Regions from separate parts of the Homo sapiens genome. Here region 1 is linked to region 2. A link means that fine-mapping ties the variant in region 2 to the expression of a gene that starts in the linked region. Tissue or cell type: whole blood. Region 2 holds a variant in brackets; the other region holds the start of a gene. All regions are shown on one strand. Distances are between the middles of the regions.

Region 1 (8,110 bases), 110 kb after region 2:
GACTACAGGCACGCGCCACCATGCCTGGCTAATTTTTATATTTGTAGTAGAGACAGGGTTTCACCATGTTGGCCAGGCTGGTCTTGAACTCCTGACCTCAGGTAATCCATCCACCTCGGCCTCCCAAAGTGCTGGGATTATAGGGGTGAGCCACCACGCCTGGTCCAGTCAGACCATTTTTTAAAGAGACTTCTTTCCCCCACCGGATTGTTCTGTGCTTTCCTTAGAAACCGAGTAAATGTTTTAAGCGAGGGTCTATTTCTGGGCTGTCTACTCTCTTCCACTGAAATATTTGTTAGTTCTTAGGCCAATACCACATTGTTCGGATTACTTTAGCTTTACAACAAGTCTTGAAGTTCAGTGAGCGAAACCTCCCATCTTGCTCTTCTTCTAGATTGCCTTTTCCGTTGCTATGGTTGATGGAAATTATCCAATATTGTGTATTATTTATTATTAATTATTGCTTCTCACTAGAATGTGAAGCTATAATAGTAGAGGACATAGTTCTTATTCCATACGGTGTTGTCTGTGCCTAGAACAAGACCTGGCACTTTGTTGGCTCTGAAGAAATAAATATATGTTGAATACATAGCCGATATGGTTTGCCTCTGCGTCTCCACCCACACCACACGTTGAATTGTAATTCCCAGTGTTGGAGGTGGGGGCTGGTGGGAGGTGACTGGCTCATGGGGCAGAGTTCTCACAGATGGTTCAGCACCACCCCCTCGGTGCTGTTCTCCCGATAGTGAGTGAGTGAATTCTTATGAGATTCGGTCGTTTAAAAGTGTGTGGTGGTTGGGCGCAGTGGCTCACGCCTGTAACCCCAGCACTTGGGAGGCCAAGGTGGGCAGATCACCTGAGGTCAGGAGTTTGAGACCAGCCTGGCCAACATGGTGTAACCGTGTCTCTACTAAATACAAAAATTAGCTGGGTGTGGTGGTGGGTGCCTGTAATCCCAGCTACTGGGAAGGCCGAGGCAGGAGAATCGCTTGAACTAGGGAAGCGGAGGCTGCAGTGAGCCGAGATCCCACCACATGCACTCCAGCCTGGGTGACAAAGTGAGACTTCGCCCCCACTCCCCCCAAAATAAATAATAAAAAAATAAAAGTGTGTGGCACCTTCCCCTTCTCTCTTCTTCCTGCTCCGGCTATGTGAAGGTGCCAGCTCTGGCTTTGCCTTCTGTGGTGGGTGAAAGCTCCTTGAGGCTCCTCCAGAAGCAGAGGCTGCTATGCTGCCTGCACCACTTGCAGAACCATCAGCCAATTGAACCTCTTTCTTTATAAATGACCAGTCTCAGGTATTTCTGTAGAGCAATGTGAGAATGCACTCATACAATAGCTTTCCATGGGCATTTAGTCAGCTCAGGAAAGCCACTCAACTCCATACATTGTCACACTTTATTTTGGTGGGATGTGTACCCAGTGTGATACTCTGTGGTGTGATCAACAACCAAATTTCAGATATTTTAAAAAATCAAATACACCCACAAGGTATGGAGATGAAGCAGTGGTAATGATATCTAAATAGATATTCCACAAGATCTAAAAGTCATGACATGAAAATTATTCCAGGTAAGTGTCAGGTAATAAAATCACCTTAGGTGACTAATCCTAGGAAAACAGAACTAATGTGAGTATATAGAATTGTTCTAATATACTTAAAAATAGCGATTTTACTAATATTCTAATTTAGTTCTCAGAAACAGAAAAAACAACAAAAAAAACTGGCTTCCATAAACTAATATTCCCATCTCATGGCCTTTACAACTCTGGCACTAATCATTGTAAAGCTGTGCACATTCTTTATATCCACAGGCCATGAGGAATGCCACAGCTAGGCCAGCAAGGATGCATTTGCTGACTTGCCCAGGCACGTGAAGGATGCAGGGCTGGCAATGATACCTCTCAAATGCTGGGGACCAGCTCCCCACCTGCCCCCTCTCTGAGAGTGTCCCAAACCTCTCTTCCAGTTCCTTCAGAACTTCCTATCTCTATTTACCAACTCATAGGTAAGGTCCCTACAATACATTCTCCTTGCTTAGGTGAGATGTACCCCTCTGGTAGGGCTCCTGCTATAGGTCAGAATTGCTGAGAAGGACTAATCCATTACAAAGCATATCCCTGAATGACTTAAGGACTTGCCCCATCTGAAGACATTTCATCAGTGGGCAAAACTCACCAAATGCTAGGCAGGAGGAGTGAAAGAGGAACAAACTTGGAGAGACTCCTATGAAATTTCAGAATTGCAACCATGCACACAAAAATCCTAAAACCTTCATTTCCAAAGAAAAGAGATCTTGATTAATAAAAAACTTTTCATCAGTAACATGAACCACTGGAAAACAATAGAGATAAGCTTTCCAAACATTTAGAGAAAATTATTTTGAATTTAAAATTTCATATCCAGGCAAAGCATAGTGGCTCATCCCCACAATCCCGGCACTTTAGAAGGTGTAGGCAGAAGGAGATCAGGAGCTCAACACCAGCCTGGGCAACATAGTGAGACCCCGTATCTACAAAAATATTTTAGAAAGTAGCCAAGTGTGGTGGCACAAGCCTGTAGTTCCAGCTACTTGGGAGGCTGAGGCAGGAGGATCGCTTGAGCCCAGGAGGTTAAGGCTGCAATGAATCATGATCACACCACTGCACTCCAGCCTGGGCAACAGAGCAAGACCTTACCTCTAAAAAACAAGAAAATTACCTTTGACCAGGCCAAGAAAATTACCTGTGGCTCATGCCTGTAATCCCATCACTTTAGGAAGCTGAGGCTGGAGGATCCCTTGAGCCTAGGAGTTTGGGACCAGCCTGGGCAACACAGGGAAACCTCATCTCCACCAAAATTTTTTTTTAAATTAGCTGGCCATAGTGGTTCACACCTGTGGTCCCAGCTACTCGTGACACTGAGGTGTGAGAATTGCTTGAGCCAGGGAGGTCAAGGCTGCAGTGAGCCACGATCATGCCACTGTACTTCAGCCTGGGCAACACAGCGAGACCTTGTCTCTAAATCGATAAATGAAATAAAATGAAATAAAATAAAATAAAATAAGATAGGGAAATTTCACATCCATCTGAATAACTAAATAAAAAGGTATAAGTATTTTGAGATATGCAAAAATTCAGTAAGTTTATAGCCATACGATCTGTATGAAAAGGTTATTCTAGGACATGCTTCAGTAAAACAAGCAAAAATGCAGTTAAAGGATGAAATGAGAGTGAAGAAAACGTTGCTGTTGAATGAGATCTAGCAGAAATAAAGAAAATGAAAAAAAATTAAAAAGAGACTCACTCAGCCTTAGAATTTTGGAAATATTTTGTGAGGGCACATGGAATTCACATTCTTTGTCCAAGTGAGAGACAATATTGCCTGATGGTTAGGACATGGGGTCTGGAGGCAGACTACCTGGAGTTAACCACTATCCATAGTTTGATTTGTAAACTTTGCAACCTTTGTAGTAGGTTCATACACAGGCACGCCCATATGAAGACACATACCAGCACGTAATCATCTGTAAACCTGGGAATCAACTTGCTGAAGCCAACTCCATTTTTACCCGAGTACCCCACAATTGCCGATACCAGTTTCTGATCTTCCCATACACCTTAACAACTTTCCACTTCTCCACTTCTTCCATTATCCTTCATTAGGTGAAAGAAAGCCATTTACTTACTCCTAGGCATACCTGAATGTTCTCTCCTATCTAAGACATTGTCATACAATGCCAGCTCCTGTCTCCCCTCCAGCCAATAAAACTAACAAAAGGGGATACGCTCTTTTAACCTCTTGGAGTTTTGTTTCTTTAAGGCAAAGATGTGATTTGCTAAAAAGACTGTTGCAAAATGATTTCCATAGCTTCCCTAATGTGTTTTTTCCAGGTACAGAATGCTACAGAGAAAAAAATTAAATACTGCATAAATACATTATCACATTAACTAGATATTGGTGCTATTACTTGTGTTCTGAGTTATACCCTTCTCCCATGCCCATATCATATCCCTTTTCTTCCACTTTCCTTCCTGAATAATTCTGACTAGATTTCAAGCACCAGATCAAAGAAAGACCAAAGAAGGCTAAAACCACATGCATTCTGCTAGCAAACTCTACTCAGCAAGAGAGACCCTGCCCAGTAAGAACGTGAAATGAACACCTTCACTTACTTGGATGACTGCTAGCCTTTCCTTTTTTCTTTAGTCCAAATCCAGACATTTCATCAGGGAAGTGTGTGGCAAATAGACGGCACTCTCGAAAGTGAAAGTAAAGCTTGAAAAAAAATGCTTTTATGTTTGGTGCATTCCAAGAAGGGCAAAGGGAGAAAACAAAAACAATCTCTGACAACCTCAGAGAGGCGTTTCAAACCGCCTCTGAAAAACACCTAGTTTTTATTTTATTTTAACTTTTTTTAAGCTGAGATCCTTGGATTTCATTGAAAGGGTCACAGATTTAGCAACAGCTAAAGTTGAAAGTGGGGACCTCACCATTTGATGTGGGCGGGTCTGGACCTCTGCAAGTTAAGGAATAACAGTGAATCCCTCAATTTTCTGCTAGACTCATGCGAAGCTGTCAGAATTGAGTAGTGTATGGTCACAGGGACAGAAAAAAAAATCCCTAATCAAAGCTGAAGTACTTTCCCTTCTTTCGTCTGGCTTTTATCTCTTTGCAACACTGTAAAATAACACCGGCAGAAATTAACCTCTTGATCCAGGAAGAAACTGAGTTTCACAGCAGAGAAAGAGCCAAACATGGCAAAGCTGAGAGCCAGTCCCACTCCTGCTGATCCACTTTTCCACGGTCAGACGCGTTAGGGAACAGATCAGTATGCCCAGAAAAGTTCAGATTAACTAAGAATTTCGTTCTTAATTTGCTTTAATGACTCCAACTAGTTAAGTAAATGTACTTGTTAAGAAATGAACTCACTTTTTTTCATTACAGATGTGCTATGATCTATTATAACTATATTGTTATATAGTGAAATATCACAATTGGAAGGAACTATAGACCACCTAATCTAACTCCCTTGTTTGAGAAATTAGGAAAACGAAACCTAGGGAGGTGAGTGGTTTGCCTAAGAACATGCCACAAGCCACCATATGCTTCAATCACACAAGTCATAAAACAACTGGACGGCTGGGACATGGCATTAGCTTGAACTCATTGCAGAGCTGATGGCAAGAAACAAGCGTGCATCATGGTGCAAAGTGCCCTCTTGTGGGCTCCAGCTTCAGCTAGACCGCTTTATAGTTACTGGGCTCAGGGCTACATGTCTCTGATTTTCATTTGTGACATCTGTAACATAACACCATAAGCAAACAGATGTCCTGAGTACGTGACTGTCCCTCACATCTATCCATTGGGATGTCCAGGAAAACTTCACTAATATTCAAAAGATTTCTTCTCTGTGAGCGCCTTGAAGGCAGGGTGAGGTTTATTCTTTGCATTATAGCTCCCCAGCAACCCTCTGAGGTAGACTGTTTCTTTGGCCTTCAATGAAAGAGACTCGTCCTCAGAATTCAAACCCTTGTGTGGCCTTCTCCCACGCTGACTCTAGGCTTGGCCATTTGACTAGCTTTGACCAGTGGGATATTAGCAAGCATGCAACAAGGTCTCATTGCCAAACACGATTACCCAGGCTTGAGAAGCAAGCAAATAAATGATTGTTGTTTTAAATTTAAAAAAATTGGAATGGTGTCATATGCATTATTAGCGAAATAAAACACATCATCTCAACAATCCTTCATACCTATCCCTTATGCCTTATGACTCCTTATACAGATTAAATTTCCCACGACTTTGGTTGACTAATGAATGGCTCTCGATAAATAAATTTTATTGATGGTCTCCTGATGCAGTAGTTTGGGCTTAATACCAGTTCATATTCAGATATTATTAGTCCTTAATTCTTGCTAGTTTCTAAATACAACACAGATTGTTTTCTCTCTACTGTACATTTCTTAACTATGTGCATTAACTTATTTAGCTATGATGGTGATTGGAGCAATAGTGAAAAACCTCATTTTTCCCCTTTTTAAAAGAATTAAGGCTGGGAGCAGTGGATCATGCCTGTAATCCCAACACTTTAGGAGATTGCTTGAGCCTAGGAGTTCAAGACCAACCTGGGCAACGTGGTAAAACTCCATCTCTACAAAAATTACAAAAATTAGCTGGGCATGTTGGTGCATGCCTATAGTCTCAGCTACTTGGGAGGCTGAGGTGGGAGGATCACTTGAGTCCAGGCAAATTCAAGTTTGCATTGAGTCATGAGTGCGCCACTGCACTCCAGCCTGGGTAACAGAGGGAGACCCTGTCTCAAAAAAAGAGAGAGAGAGAATTAAAAAAAAATGTATGCCCATAAATGTAAAATAACAAATTTAGTAAACACTGATATTTCACAGCATTACAGATCAGCCAATCTCAGAATAATGGGAAGCTGTATATTCCCAGCAAAACAGAGATCTACAGAATTCTAGAAGCCAAAGTCCCTTAAATTTATTCACATTCTAAAAACTCTAAGTTCCCTTCTTCCATTTGAGGGGCCTCTTTAATGAGAGTTTAGTAAGATAATATACACAAAATTTCTGGAAGAATCACTTGACAAAACACAGCAAGTTACAGAGACCGGAGTGACAAGCCAGATATAATTAGCAAATTACCACTCACATGCTGAACTACACAGACACTGTTCTTCTCTGCCCGTTCCTAATAACAATTCTTAATAAAACAGCCGTTTTTATTTTTTTTAATCTTTTTTTTCCTGAGACAGAGTCTTGCTCTGTCACCCAGGCTGTAATTCAGTGGCGCGATCTCAGCTCACTGCAAGCTCCGCCTACCGGGTTCAAGTAATTCTCCTGCCTCAGCCTCCAGAGTAGCTAGCTGGGACTACAGGCACGTGCCACGACGCCCGGCTAATTTTTTGTATTTTTGGTAGAGACGAGGTTTCACCGTGTTAGCCAGGATGGTCTCGATCTCCTTACCTCGTGATCCACCCACCTTGGCCTCCCAAAGTGCTGTGATTACAGGCGTGAGCCACTGCGCCCGGCCAATTACAACCATTTTACCTATAGACAAAGATAGTGTATAGTCTGTAGGCAGTCTAGTCAATTCATTATAAGATTTATAAGGGAAAGTTTATCATTTTCATTATCATCATTATCAGCACCTACAATACTGAGGCTTTACGGAACCATCTTTACAATCTCCCGAATGAATGAATTTAGACATGAGGATTGTGTCACCGCAGTTTCTAACCACAAATATAGAGAATTGAAATTGTGGGGCAAACAGAAGACTCTCCTCTCAATGCATGTATGTGAAAAGGCAGATTAGTACTGAACAATACAATAATTACACTCTGTGAGGGCCAAATATAGAGAGAACTAATTGCTCAGTAATACTTAACATTTGTGCCAGCAATGAATATCCAATTATGAGTGAGCTGTTGGGTATTTGAGGCAATATCATGCATAGGTTTAATTTAAACGGGCTCTTAGAGTCTCAGAAGTAAACCTTTATTCATGGTGTTAAAGTACATTAAAATGGAGACCAGGCCAGAAGAATCCATGAACATACCAAACCAGCAAGGGCTCATAAGCGACCTCGACCTTGCTTGATCTGCAAACATAAGTGACATACGCAAACATAATAACTTGAGCACTATATCTTGTAAATGCCTATATTAAAGAAAACGTAAACACAACCAATCAGAAGCAGCCAACAAACTTATATAACTAAGGACTTTCCAATGAGATAGACCAAATAAGGTAGCTGTATAACTGTAAACAGTCAAGCGCTGTCTTTGCTCTACTTCTGTCTCTGTCCTGAAAAAGCCTTCTCTTGTGTTCCCTTGGTGGAGCTCCCCAACCACTTCTGGTTCATGAATCATTGCTGGTTCAGAAGCACTGTAAAACTGTATTGTGCCTCAGTTTACTTTTTTATTTGTATAGATTTATGGGAGTACTAGTGCCATTTTGTTCCATGCGTAGATTGCATAGTGATGGAGTCAGGGTCTTTAGGGTATTCATCACCCAAATAACATATATTGTGCCATTAGTATCAGTTTACTTTTTAAGAATAGGAACAAGGAGATTGGACCAACCAATGTTCTCTGGGTTGGCAGGAA
Region 2 (8,110 bases):
AATCCTTTACAGACAAGCAAATGCTGAGAGATTTTGTCACCACCAGGCCTGCCTTACAAGAGCTCCTGAAGGAAGCACCAAACATGGAAAAGAACAACTGGTACCAGCCACTGCAAAAACATGCCAAATTGTAAAGACCATCAGGCTAGGAAGAAACTGCATCAACTAACGAGCAAAATAACCAGCTAACATCATAATGACAGGATCAAATTCACACATAACAATATTAACCTTAAATGTAAATGGGCTAAATGTGCCGATTAAAAGACACAGACTGGCAAACTGGATAAAGAGTCAAGATCCATCAGTGTGCTGTATTCAGGAGACCCATCTCACGTGCAGAGACACATATAGGCTCAAAATAAAGGGATGGAGGAAGATCTACCAAGCAAATGGAAAACAAAAAAAAAAAGCAGGGGTTGCAATCCTAGTCTCTGATAAAACAGACTTTAAACCAACAAAGATCGGAAGAGACAAAGAAGGCCATTACATAATGGTAAAGGGATCAATTCAACAAGAAGAGCTAACTATCCTAAATATATATGCACTCAATACAGGAGCACTGAGATTCATAAAGCAAGTCCTTAGAGACTTATAAAGAGACTTAGACTCCCACACAATAATAATGGGAGACTTTAACACCCCACTGTCAACATTAGACAGATCCACGAGACAGAAAGTTAAGAAGGATATCCAGGAATTGAACTCAGCTCTGCACCAAACAGACCTAATAGACATCTACAGAACTCTACACCATAAATCAACAGAATATACATCCTTCTCAGCACCACATCGCACTTATTCCAAAATTGACCACATAGTTGGAAGTAAAGCACTCCCCAGCAAATGTAAAAGAACAGAAATTATAACGAACTGTCTCTCAGACCACAGTGCAATCAAACTAGAACTCAGGATTAAGAAACTCACTCAAAACCGCTCAACTACATGGAAACTGAACAGCCTGCTCTTGAATGACTACTGGGTACATAATGAAATGAAGGCAGAAATAAAGATGTTCTCTGAAACCGATGAGAACAAAGACACAACATACCAGAATCTCTGGGAAACATTTAAAGCAGTGTGTAGAGGGAAATTTATAGCACTAAATGCCCACAAGAGAAAGCAGGAAAGATCTAAAATTGATACCCTAACATCACAATTAAAAGAACTAGAGAAGCAAGAGCAAACACATTCAAAAGCTAGCAGAAGGCAAGAAATAACTAAGATCAGAGCAGAACCGAAGGAGATAGAGACACAAAAAACCCTTCAAAAAATCAATGAATCCAGGATGTGGTTTTTTGAAAAGATCAACAAAATTGATAGACCGCTAGCAAGACTAATAAAGAAGAAAACAGAGAAGAATCAAATAGACGCAATAAAAAATGATAAAGGGGATATCACCACCGATCCCACAGAAATACAAACTACCTCAGAGAATACTATAAACACTTCTATGCAAATAAACTAGAAAATCTAGAAGAAATGGATAAATTCCTGGACACATACACCCTCCCAAGACTAAGCTAGGAAGAAGTTGAATCCCTGAATAGACCAATAACAGGCTCTGAAATCGAGGCAATAATTAAGAGCCTACCAACCAAAAAAAGTCCAGGACCAGATGGATTCACAGCCGAATTCCACCAGAGGTACAAAGAGGAGCTGGTACCGTTCCTTCTGAAACTATTCCAATCAATAGAAAAAGAGGGAATCCTCCCTAACTCATTTTATGAGGCCAGCATCATCCTGATACCGAAGCCTGGCAGAGACACATACAAAAAAGAGAATTTTAGACCAATATCCCTGATGAATATCGATGCAAAAATCCTCAATAAAATACTGGCAAACCAAATCCAGCAGCACATCAAAAAGCTTATCCACCATGATCAAGTGGGCTTCACCCCTGGGATGCAAGGATGGTTCAACATATGCAAATCAATAAATGTAATCCAGCATATAAATAGAACCAAAGACAAAAACCACATGATTATCTCAATAGATGCAGAAAAGGCCTTTGACAAAATTCAACAACCCTTCATGCTAAAAACTCTCAATAAATTAGGTATTGATGGGACATATCTCAAAATAATAAGAACTATTTATGACAAGCCCACAGCCAATATCATACTGAATGGGCAAAAACTGGAAGCATTCCCTTTGAAAACTGGCACAAGACAGGGATGCCCTCTCTCACCACTCCTATTCAACATAGTGTTGGAAGTTCTGGCCAGGGCAATCAGGCAGGAGAAAGAAATAAAGGGTATTCAATTAGGAAAAGAGGAAGTCAAATTGTCCCTGTTTGCAGATGACATGACTGTATATTTAGAAAACCCATCATCTCAGCCCAAAATCTCCTTAAGCTGATAAGCAACTTCAGCAAGGTCTCAGGATACAAAATCAATATGCAAAAATCACAAGCTTTCCTATACACCAATAACAGACAAACAGAGAGCCAAATCATTAGTGAACTCCCATTCACAATTGCTACAAACAGAATAAAATACCTAGGAATCCAACTTACAAGGGATGTGAATAACCTCTTCAAAGAGAATTACAAACCACTGCTGAACCAAATAAAAGAGGACACAAACAAATGGAAGAGCATTCCATGCTCATGGATAGGAAGAACCAATATTGTGAAAATGGCCATACTGCCCAAGGTAATTTATAGATTCAATGCCATCCCCATCAAGCTACCAATGACTTTCTTTACAGAATTGGAAAAAACTACTTTAAAGTTCATATGGAACCAAAAAAGAGCCCGCATTGCCAAGTCAATCCTAAGCCAAAAGAACAAAGCTGGAGGCATCACGCTACCTGACTTCAACCTATACTACAAGCCTACAGTAACCAAAACAGCATGGTACTGGTACCAAAACAAAGATATAGACCAATGGAACAAAACAGAGCCCTCAGAAATAATACCACACATCTACAACCATCTGATCTTTGACAAACCTGACAAAAACAAGAAATGGGGAAAGGATTCCCTATTTAATAAATGGTGCTGGGAAAACTGGCTAGCCCATATGCAGAAGGCTGGAACTGGATCCCTTCCTTACACCTTATAAAAAATTAATTCAAGATGGATTAAAGACTTAAATGTTAGACCTAAAACCATAAAAACCCTAGAAGAAAACCTTGGCAATACCATTCAGGACATAGGCATGGACAAGGACTTCATGTCTAAAACACCAAAAGCAATGGCAACAAAAGCCAAAATTGACAAATGGGATCTAATTAAACTAAAGAGCTTCTGCACAGCAAAAGAAACTACCATCAGAGTGAACAGACAACCTACAAAATGGGAGAAAATTTTTGCAATCTACCCATCTGACAAAGGGCTAATATCCAGAATCTACAAAGAACTTAAACTAATTTACAAGAAAAAAATCAAACAACCCCATCAACAAGTGGGCGAAGGATATGAACAGACACTTCTCAAAAGAAGACATTTATGCAGCCAACAGACACATGAAAAAATGCTCATCATCACTGGCCATCAGAGAAATGCAAATCAAAACCACAATGAGATACCATCTCACAGCAGTTAGAATGGCGATCATTAAAAAGTCAGGAAACAACAGGTGCTGGAGAGGATGTGGAGAAATAGGAACACTTTTACACTGTTGGTGGGACTGTAAACTAGTTCAACCATTGTGGAAGACAGTGTGGCAATTCCTCAAGGATCTAGAACTAGAAATACCATTTGACCCAGCCATCCCATTACTGGGTATATACCCAAAGGATTATAAATCATGCTGCTATAAAGACACATGCACACGTATGTTTACTGCGGCACTATTCACAATAGCAAAGACTTGGAACCAACCCAAATGTCCATCAATGATAGACTGGATTAAGACAATGTGGCACATATACACCATGGAATACTATGTAGCCATAAAAAAGGATGAGGTCATGTCCTTTGTAGGGACATGGATGAAGCTGGAAACCATCATTCTGAGCAAACTGTCGCAAGGACAGAAACCCAAACACCACATGTTCTCACTCATAGGTGGGAATTGAACAATAAGAACACTTGGACACAGGATGGGGAACATCACACACCAGGGCCTGTCATAGGGTGTGGGGAGAGGGGAGGGATAGCATTAGGAGATATACCTAATGTAAATGACGAATTAATGGGTGCAGCACACCAACATGGCACATGTATACATATGTAACAAACCTGCACATTGTGCACATGTACCCTAGAACTTAGTATAATAAAAAATAAAATAAAATAAAATACACTCAAATCAAAAAAAAGAAAAACTCTCTCCCTCCAGATATACATTATATTACATAATCTAATATCTCCTAATAATTTTGTTGCTCTGAAGAACTCTAATATACTCATTTTTATTAAATTTATTCCTAGGTATTTGATTTTTGAATCTATTATATTGTATTTTTATAAATTGTATTATCTGTTGTTATATAGAAATGCACGTAATTTTTATATTGACTGTTTTCAATGATGTTGTTAAATCACATTTTTAAGTGTGTTTGTAATTATTTTGGATTTTCTATGTACACAATCATGTTTTCTGTGAAAAACCAAATTGTTTCTTTCTTCCTAAATCTTAAGACCCTTTAATAATTTAATCTTGCCCTGCTGGGGTGGAAAATATATTCTGTATCATGAATAACAGTGGCGGTAGCTGACACTTCGTATTATCTGATCTCAGGAAGTATAGCTTCTT[C/T]AGTAAGTAAAATCAGAATAAAATTACCACTAAGTATGCAGTTTGCAGTTGTTTTTTTCCCCTAGATACTCATGAAGAGATAACAGTGATATTCTTATCTTCCTGGTTGACTAAGAATTTTTATAAAGACATTTTCTTCATCTTTCGAGAAGATCCCATGCTTGTTTCCTTACATCATTTGTTGCACTGAATGATTTTCACATGGTACATCAAACTTGCATTTCTGAAATAAATTTAATTTGGATGGTACGTATTATCTATTTCATATATTACTGATTTGATTTTGCTTGGGAGTTCAGGGATGATATTGGCCTATAATTCGCTTTTTTTTTTTTTTTTATAATTCTCAGTTACTTTATTGTAATTTACTTTTTTTTTTTGTAATGTCCTTGTTAGGTTTTGTATCAGGGTTGTGGTAGCCTTACAAAATGACAATCATCTTGAATAACTTTTTTGTTAGTTTTTTAGAGAGACAAAGTCTCACTCTGTTACCCAGGCTGGAGTGCAGTGGCGTGATCATAACTCACTGTAACCTCGAGCCTCTGGGCTCAAGCAATCCTCCTGCTTCAGCCTCCCAAAGTGCTGGGATTATAGGCATGAGCCACTATGCCCAGGCCTGAAGAGCTTTTTGATATTGCTACTAGTGGTATTAGTTTTTCCTTAAATATTTGGAAGGATTAACCAATGAAGTCAGCAGGACTTGGAGTTGTCTTTGTGAGAAGGCTTTTAATAATACATTTAAGTCTTATAATAGACATAACCCTTTTCAAATTTTCTATTTCTTCTTGAGTGATGTGATTTTTTCAAAGTTTTAATTTTCATCTAAATTACCAAATCAAGTTATTCATAGTATAATGCTTATCTTTTTTCACATCTATAGAATCAGCAGTGGTATGCCTATTTTCATTCCTGATAGTATTTTGTGCCTTCATCTCGCTATATCACACGCACTGCTTTATAAAACTCTACCTTAGAACAGTAATCCTGGACAATGATGAATCTATAACACTTTAACAGCAAATAAACCCTTCCCAATTTTAAGCTATTTCTATAATATTTTAATCCCAAATATATACTGAATTCTGTATTACTCATTATTTTATACAGTAAGTATTCTTTTCTATTTTCCCACGTATGTATACATTCTGATCTTTATTACTTCTTCTTTTATCATTGTACTTCCTTCTGGGATAATTTTCCTACTCTGTGAAGAGCTCTCGTTTGTATTTCCTTTAGTACAGATTTGCCGGTGATAAATTCCCAATTTTGGTTTATCTGAAAATACTGCTCTTTTGCCCTCATTTTTGAGGTATATGTTTACTACGTATAAAATTCTGGGTTGGCAATTATTTTTTTCAGCACTTTAAAGATGCTTTTTATATTGTCTTTCAGCTTCCATCACTTGTGTTGAAAAGTCAAATATTAGTCTTATTGTTGCTTCTTTGAAGATAATGAGTCTTTCCCCCCTCCCTCTGACTGCTGTTTGGTTCTTTTTGATTTGGGGTTTCTAGCAGTTTGTGATGGACCTGAGTATGTTTTGCTTTCTATCTTGTGTTTCTTATAGCTTCTTAAATGACTGCATCGATGTCTTCTATCTATTTTTGGAAGATTCTTTCATGGTATCTGTTCAATACTGCATTGTTCTATTCTCTTTCTCCTCTATGACTATCATTACACGGATATGAGATTTTTTCACATGGCCTCACAATTTTTAAGGAATATCTATTTTTTATGCTTGTTCAAAGTGAATACTGTGTATTGACCTGCCTTCCAGTTTACTAAGCCTCTTGTCTGCTATGTGTAATCTGCAGTTCAACACAGCTAGTGAATTATTGAGTCATTGTATTATTCATTTCTAGGATATCAGTTTGATTATTTTTCAGATTACAGTTCTCTCTTGAAATTGTTTTTCAATATATTTTTGAATGTGCAAATCAAATTGTTTCTTAGCTTGTACCTGATAGTGCTACTATTTTAATCACGTGTGGGTCCATTATAATTTTGTTTTCTCTCTTGGCTTTCAGTCACTTGGCCCTATATCCTGGGCTGTCTCTTAATTTTAGATTGAATGCTGTACATTGTATATAAAAATAATAGAAATTCTAGGTGATGCTATATTTCTTTAAAGAGGATACTTTTTCTGGTGGTCATATAAAGTACAGGCATATAACCTGGATCTAAACAGAGGTTTCATTGATTCTAGGTTCTGCTTCTAGTGTTTTGAGGACTTGTCTGTATTAAGCTTGCCCTTACTCCTAGAGTGTAGTCCTTCAAGATTATCAATTCAAAGTCTGAGACATTTCCCAACATCATTCCTTTTGGCAGCCTAGTGAGCTTGTCACAAATTTTGAGGGTATCCCTTTTTCTTGGCCTCTATGCCCCATTACTAATCTAAAATATATTGATACAGGGAAAGAAAACAGTAGCAAATATGGGGTTCATCTCAATGTATTATTCCTGTTGTCTCCCAATTTGTTTCCTGAAGTTGTGCTGCTTTGTCTTGGGGGGCTGGGTGGGTGTGGATGTGGGTGTCCACGCGTGCCTCCAAAGAGCTGTTTCTTGTCCATTTATAGCTTTTATAGTTGTTCTCAGTAGGTCAGTTTGCTCATGAACTATTCTTTCATAAACAGTAGTGGAATGCCTCCATGTTTATTTTTAACATCATTTTGATTCTGTATATTTTTGAAATCTTTTGCCTTCTAAGCTAAAACTTTCACCCCCACAATGTTCTTTTTGTGAACTCTGAAGACATCCTTCACAAGGTGTAGCCTTCTCTGAATGTTGCTTCTGAGTTATAACTTACTATTCACTCAGCTCTGTCAGCTTTTTCTTTAATTTTCCAGTGGGAATACACTCTGCATGTCCTCCAGAGAACACTAGAGCTATCTTCCTTTTTGGATCAACATTTTTATACTGAATAATGACATTCATCAAGATGAACCTTACTAGGAAACACACGTGCATGCACACACACACACACACACACACACACACACACATACTCTACTCCCCTGTACAGAAAAATTCCCTGGAAGACTTGCCCATGACTACTGTCTTGGATTTCTCTCTTCTTCTTTTCTCCCAAACCCACTGCAAGCCTACTTTCGCCTTGTCCATTCACCTAGCAGATCTTGTCAAGGCCACCAGTAACTTCCATGTGGCTAGACCTTTAGTCTGATTCTCAGACCTCATCGTAATTGACTCATCAACAGCATTCAACATACTTGAGTCCCTATCACTTCCTTGAAACACTTCCCCCGCACAAACACACACATACTTTGAGGACGCCACATTCTCCTGACTCTTATTTCCCTTCACCAGCCATTCTTTCTCAGTCTGCTTTGCTGGTTTTCCTTCACATCCCAGGCCTTTAGATGTTAAAAGGCACAAGGCTCAGTACTTCT

What was found. PIP is the estimated chance that this variant, and not a neighbour inherited with it, causes the effect.
Region 1: TLR3 starts here. The variant in region 2 is fine-mapped to the expression of TLR3 in whole blood (TOPMed, PIP 0.97).

Annotation. Positions count from the first base shown.
Region 1 is chr4:186,065,293-186,073,402 of GRCh38, reverse strand. TLR3 (toll like receptor 3) reads right to left here and starts at 4,247. Exons shown (of 5, transcript NM_003265.3): 1 at 4,155-4,247.
Region 2 is chr4:186,176,513-186,184,622 of GRCh38, reverse strand. No RefSeq gene overlaps it. Among named protein-coding and RNA genes, the nearest start is that of FLJ38576, 11 kb to the left of the region's middle. The variant C/T (reference allele first, on the strand shown) is at 4,707.